2 linked regions of the Homo sapiens genome follow. The protein of the gene in region 1 interacts with the protein of each later gene in a pairwise test. Each region holds a gene or a part of one and is shown in the gene's direction. Other genes may lie near its edges.

Region 1 (3,500 bases):
TTTGTGTGTGTTTGTCTCTGTGTGTGTCTCTGTGTCTGTGTGTGTGTCTGTGTCTCTGTGTGTGTACCTTTCTCTCAGTGTGTGTGTCTCTGTGTGTGTGTGTAACTGTGTGTGTGAGTGTGTCTCTTTGTGTGTGTCTGTGTGTGTGTGTGTGTGTGTATGAGTGTCTGTGTGTCTGTCTCTCTGGTCTTAATTCAACTCAACACTGCAGGTCAGGAAATGTTTCTGATCCCCACTTTGTATGAGTCACTACTGGGCACAGAGAAAAGGGTGCGACTCGCTTGCTGCCCGAGGCCTTCCCAGCAGAAGGTGGCTGGTAGGCGAGAGGGGTGATGGGGATGCAGTGTGCTCCTATGGAGGAGGAACTGGAGCAGGCCCCAGCTACACAGCAGGGATGGATTAGGGGTTCAGGGCTGGAGCTGAATGCTGAGGAGATGTTCTCCTTGCTGAGGAAAGGCACACAGGGGCTCCAGGCCTGGCCCAAGGCCCAGAGAAGCAACTGCAGGAGCTGTCAGGGTGCTGGGGCTGGAGGGGACAGTGTGAACCAGTGGGGAGAGGTACATGAGACTGGAGGGTGGTTGAGGGGGTGCAGGCTGAGCAAAGATGTTACCCCGACAGCACCAGGGCTGCCTCTGTGGGGAGCTACTGTCTTGGGCAGGACAAGGGTGATATTGGCCTCCAAAGCCCTAGGGGGCTGGACCCTGCTTTCCTTCCAGCCTCACCTCAGCGTTCTCTCCTTGTCCCCTTCGTCACAGCCAGACTGCTTCTTCCAGGCCCTCTGGAACCTCGAGCTCCTCTTCCTTGTAGGATCTCTGGGCGTCCTAGAATGCTGCAATGCTCTGGCCCGGGGTTGCCTGGAGCCCAGTCCCCTCTCGCTTCCAGGACCACCCCGTCAAAGGGCCCCCCTCGTGTGCTCTGTTCAGACCACATTCAGTGCTTGGTTTGTGGTTATTTCTTTGGTGAATTGCTCATTGAATGTCTCACTCTCTCCCTCCTGTGAACTCCTTGAGGCAATGGCTGTGCACAGCATCCGGCTCACAGTAGGCCCTTTAGTAGACTCTCAGTGAGCGGACGATGAGTGGCTGAGTGAGTGGATGAGGGGAGACGGGTGCAGAGAGGGTGATTCCGTGGTGAGGACTGTGCCTGTAATGAAACCCTCCAATGTAGCGCTGGAGAACTAGCGAGCTGTTTATCGCGAGGCTCAGGTTGTTAAATTCAAGAAGTGAAACCAAGGGCTTTAGAACGTCTCTGAGGATGGAGGTTATATAAACCGAGTCAATAAATATTGATGTGGAGTCCGGCTTTCATGTTCAGAGGTGCTTTGTGGGGAGGTGGGAGTTTCTCTCCCCGACCCTCTTAGGCTCACCCGGCATGGCGGGAGCTTTGTTGCAGGGATCAGGCACGTAGGCCCCTGAATTTCACAAATCCACCAGAAAGGGAGGCCGGGGAGGCTGGGTCCAGCAGGATGCCTCGCAGAACTGAAACCTGCCTGTAGGAAATCTCGCCCTGGAACCAAACCAGGACTCTCCAGCTCCCGCCCCACCCCAGCAACCATTGACAACTGCATCATCCAGAATCCAGAAAGCTCACCAGTGGAACTCGCCGGCCTGAGCCGGCCCTTCCTCCTCTTGTCTCGCAGTGCTGTGCTCACCTCTTATGCCATCTTAGGCCATTGACTCCACCCCACTGCCCCGTCTGGCCTCAGCACCTGGGACACGCCCTACTACATCAGCCTTCCCACTGGCCCCCTTGCCTTCAGCCATCCCCCTGCAAACATGCCTCCTGTTGCCCCCAGAGACATCACTCCAAAACATAATTCTCACCTTGTCGCTTCCCTGCTTAGAACTGTCACTGGCTCCCTGTTGTCCTTGAGATCAAGTCCAAGTGTAATCTGTTCTTTGCCCCCTGCCCAGGCCCCCAGGCTTCCCCATCACTCACACCCCTTGGGCCAGCCATGCCAAGGCCTGTGATGCCTCTAGAACAGCCTGTGTGCTCTCCACGTTCTTTCCAGGGCTGATGCCATTTCCTCTGCTCAGAGCCTTCTTCCCCTCATCCTAATGTTCTTCCATGAAGTCACTTATGATGTCACATCCCCCAGGAGGACGTCCCTGATGCCCCCGCCCCCAGGTTGATTAGGTCCAGCAGCCCCCTGTGCTGATGGCCTCAGTCATGGTGTCACCTCTGCGTTGCAAGTGTCTACACCCATCAGTCCATCTCTTCCTCCCCCTGTAGACTGTGAGGTCTCAAGAAAGAGCCTGTGCCTGATTCACCACAACGTACTCTCTGACCTCCCCAGACTCTTAGGGAATGATTGGCCTTCAGTTGCAGAAGTTACCAAAATTCAGGACAGGGAGGCAAACTCTCCTTCAGCTAAGACAGCCTCCATTGAGCCTAATTCTGGGGTCATGGAGCATGTGGGGTGGCCTGGCAGAAGTTAGCCCTGCTTGGGCAGAATCCCATGGGCTGGGCTGCACCCGTAGCAACCAGTCAGCATTAGACCCTTGACTCTGACAGTCACGGAGGACACCCCAGCAAGTGTCAGCACACAGGACTGCTTGCATGTGGGGAACCACGTGGGGGCTTCGAAACATGCTGAGGCCTGGACTGCACCCCCAGAGATTCTGGTGTAGTTGGTTTGAGATAGGGCTAGAGCTCCAGGATCATTTGAAACGTTTGAATCCCAGGGGATTCTAACATGTGCAGCTGCTTGAGAACCACTCACAGCTAGTCCTACTAGAGCAGCGCTTCTCTTCCTGGTTACACACGGTAATTACCTGGACAGCCTTGTCCTGGACCCATGGAATTAGAATCCATGGGGGTGGTGACAACCTAGGCATCAGCATTTCCGAGCTCCTCAGCTGCTTCTAATGTGAAGCAGGGTTTGAAACCACTACCTCCAACGTACCTCCCTCCCTCCCTTTTCTTTTTCCAGAAGCATTTGCTGGAGGCCTGCTCTGTGCTCGTGCTCTCTAGCCCTGGTGGTGCTTTGGTGAATCAGCCCCTGCAGTTCCTATTTGGGATTTCTTAACTCAGGGGACGTTAGCAGTGGAAGAGCTCACCCTGTAAAGGGAACCTGTCCCACAGGCAGGCTTGCTGGGTCCTGCACCAGCTCCTAGTGCCCCTTTACTAACCTGCTGTTGGCCAGGGGCCTTATCCAGCCCTGTCTGGGCACGTCCATACCCATGTTGGGAGGTCTTGCCCAGCTCCTGAGTCTCTCAAGAGGCCTGGGACTCTGCCTAGGCAAGGTTTGGGGTTGCACATGGTCATTGGGATGGGAAGCTTTCCAGCAGCTCCCTCAGACCCTGCATCAGGCTGGAGGCAATGGCAGGCTGGGGCTGAGGCTCTGAACTCCCTCCTGAGCATGCACGAGCTCGACAGCTGCACTGTAGTCTGTGGATGAGCCTGCGACTATAGGCAACTCTCTTGGCTGGGCCCAGGTGTGTTCTCTTTGAGGGGAGGGGATGCCAGCAGGATTTTAATATCCCTTTAACAGAAAGGGT
Region 2 (2,774 bases), on another chromosome or scaffold:
GAATATAATAAGTTAGCCTACTTCAAATGTGCTCAGAACGCTTATGTTACTGTGGCTGACCAGAAGCTGTGGCTCATGGCTGCTGCGCAGCATCATGACAGAATATTGTACTGAATTGCTAGCCTGGAAAAGAACAAAATTTAAAATTTGAAAACGATTTCTATTGAATGCATGTCACTTTTGCAAAATCATAAATTTGAAAAATCATAAGTTGAACTAAGGTAAGTCAGGGATCATCTGTATATCCACAAGTGAAATTGCTAGATCATATGATAGTTCAGTGTTTAATTTTTTGAGGAACTGTCATACTGTTTAGCAACTGCACCATTTTCCATTCCCACCAACAGTGCCCAAAGGTTCTAATTTCTCCCCATCCTCACCAACACTTAATTATTTATTAATAATAGCCATCCTGATGGGTGTGACTTTGGTGTCCCATTTCCCCCAATGAATGGTGATGTTGAGCCTCTTAGGTGCTTATAGCCATTTGTATATCTTTGGAGAAATGCCTATTCAAGGCCTTTGCTCATTTTTGACTTCAGTTTGGTTTTTTTGTTGTTAGGTTGTAGGAATTATTTGTATAATTCTAGTGCATATTAGGTCTTAAAGAGTGGGCAAATTAAAGATCGGAAGAGGGCTAGATGACCTCAACCAGAATTGGAAGAGGTAGTACTTTCCTCTTAAGGCAAGAAGTTTGGGATTTTTGAGGAAGTTGAGGTGAGAGAGAGAGAGAACATTCCAAATAAAGGGAGTGACTAGAGCAAAGGCTTAGGATGGGAAAAACCAGGATGTTTTTGGAGAACAGTGGGAATTCTGTTTAGGTTAAATCATAAGGTTGGGCTGTAGGGACCCTAAGGCTAAAAAGATAGATTGCAAAGGACAGAGAAGAATATACTTGTGGTCAGGAGGATGGCCTGCATACATGCCTATCTCCCATCAGGCTGCAGGGCTGGGGGCTAGTGTTCTGCTTGTCACCCCTGGAGGTAGGGTCGGTTCCACTTAACAGCGCATGGCTGAGAATGTAGGATTTGGATGGGAAGGGAATCTTCTCAAATAAGAATCCAAGATTGTTACTGAGAGAAGAGGGGAGGCATATTGAGGCAGTCAACAAATGTCAGTGCTTACACCCACACAATAGGCAGTCAGTAAGCATTTGATTGAATGCGTTGAATGACAAAAATGCTTACCCATCTTGCTCAAGCAGCATCTTCTAGCCCTTGAATAGCCTTACCATTCCTCTGGAATCACAGCTACCTGGGAAGGACTATTAGGATAATGAGGAGAGCTAATGCTTATTTAGCACCTACTCTGTGCTAGTCTTTGTGCTAGGTGTTTTTCATGTATTATCTCAACCTTTGAGTCTCAGCTTACTGATGAGGTTCTGAGAAGGGAACCCCACATGTATAGGTCATTAGAGGGGTCCCCATATGTATAGGTCATTAAGAGGAAAAGTTTAGCCAAGTTGAACTCCTTTCTAGTAGGAGGATCCGTTGTTTTCACTCACCCTCCTCTTTGCACTAGGCCCTAGACCCCTTGTAGTTGTGTTAGTTGTAACTATTGGACCCCTTGTCCTAAAGCCGTCTCATTTTCTAGGGAATGTTAGGCTAAGGATGTTTGTGAGCTGAGTGAGATAATCTTTTGGGGATGGAAACTGACCTGTGGCTGGCCGGCCAAGGACATAAGAATGAAGAACTTTTGTCAGTCCTAGCTTTGAGTCAGCCTCATCCCAACATCAGAAGGCAGTTTTGCCAGCTTTCCAGTGGAGACTCGGTACTTGGCTTTTTCCTAGATTCCTCTCTCAGAATTGAGCTCAGGCCCAGGGAGGCTCAGGCTGACTCTCCATTTCTTTTCCCTCCCTAGAATCATTGCGATGATGAGTCCAGAGGACAGCTGGGTCTCCAAGTGGCAGCGAGTCAGTAAGTGTTGGCCTGTCTCCTTTTGGCTTAGTTGTAGTGTTGTTACTGTTCCTCAGGTCCATTAGGGAGTCTCAAATCAGCAAGATGAGTGACCTCAGGGTGGGAAAGATCGGGTTGTAGGAAACACAGGGAAGCAGTGTCCTGTGCCTTGTCATTTAACACTTGTAGCCAAAAGAGGGAATAGCTCTTCTCTTGGAGTTGCATCACTTCTTTAGCTTAAGCTTCCATTTGATCTTGAGTCTTAACTAACTTCACTGTAATCTTGTATCTTTTTTCTTCTCTCTCAGGTAACTTTAAGCCAGGTGTATATGCGGTGTCAGTCACTGGTCGCCTGCCCCAAGGTAATAATAATCATAACAGCCAATGTTCATTTACTGTAAAGCTCTGTGGAAGTTTTTTTATCTGAATTAATGCCAATTCTCACATTCTATGAGGTTCAGCATTTTACAGATGGGGGGAACCAGGCACAGAGAGGTTAAATCACTTGCTGGAGGTCACCAGGTAGTAAATGAGGAGCCAGGATTGGAATCCAGGCATTCTGGCTCCAGAATTTTTGCTGTTTCTGTTTTTTATTTTTTTTAGAGACAAGGTCTCACTATGTTGCCCAGGCTGGACTCTAACTCCTGGGCTCATGTGCTCCTCCCACCTCTGCCTCCTGAGTAGCTGGGACTACAGGTGCTTGGCTTAGAACCTTTGCTTTTGATGACTACATGTATCCCTCTTTTTCTTCTCATTCTTACCGAATACCTGCCTGGGTCTTCACTAGTAATGAGTCAACTAAGCAGGACCTTTTTTTTTTTTTTTTTTTTTGAGACAGAGTCTCTGTCACCCAGGCTGAAGTATAGTGGCATTATCAGA

What was found.
Region 2: the proteins of NSG2 (region 1) and SUPT4H1 interact in a two-hybrid assay, tested with the Homo sapiens proteins (one large-scale study listed by BioGRID and IntAct).

What each region holds. Positions count from the first base shown.
Region 1 is NC_000005.10:174,097,706-174,101,205, forward strand, and holds part of NSG2 (neuronal vesicle trafficking-associated protein 2), read left to right. Parts: intron 1-3,500.
Region 2 is NC_000017.11:58,346,671-58,349,444, reverse strand, and holds part of SUPT4H1 (transcription elongation factor SPT4), read left to right. Parts: intron 1-1,860; coding exon 1,861-1,916; intron 1,917-2,203; coding exon 2,204-2,257; intron 2,258-2,774. UniProt on the Homo sapiens protein: Component of the DRB sensitivity-inducing factor complex (DSIF complex), which regulates mRNA processing and transcription elongation by RNA polymerase II.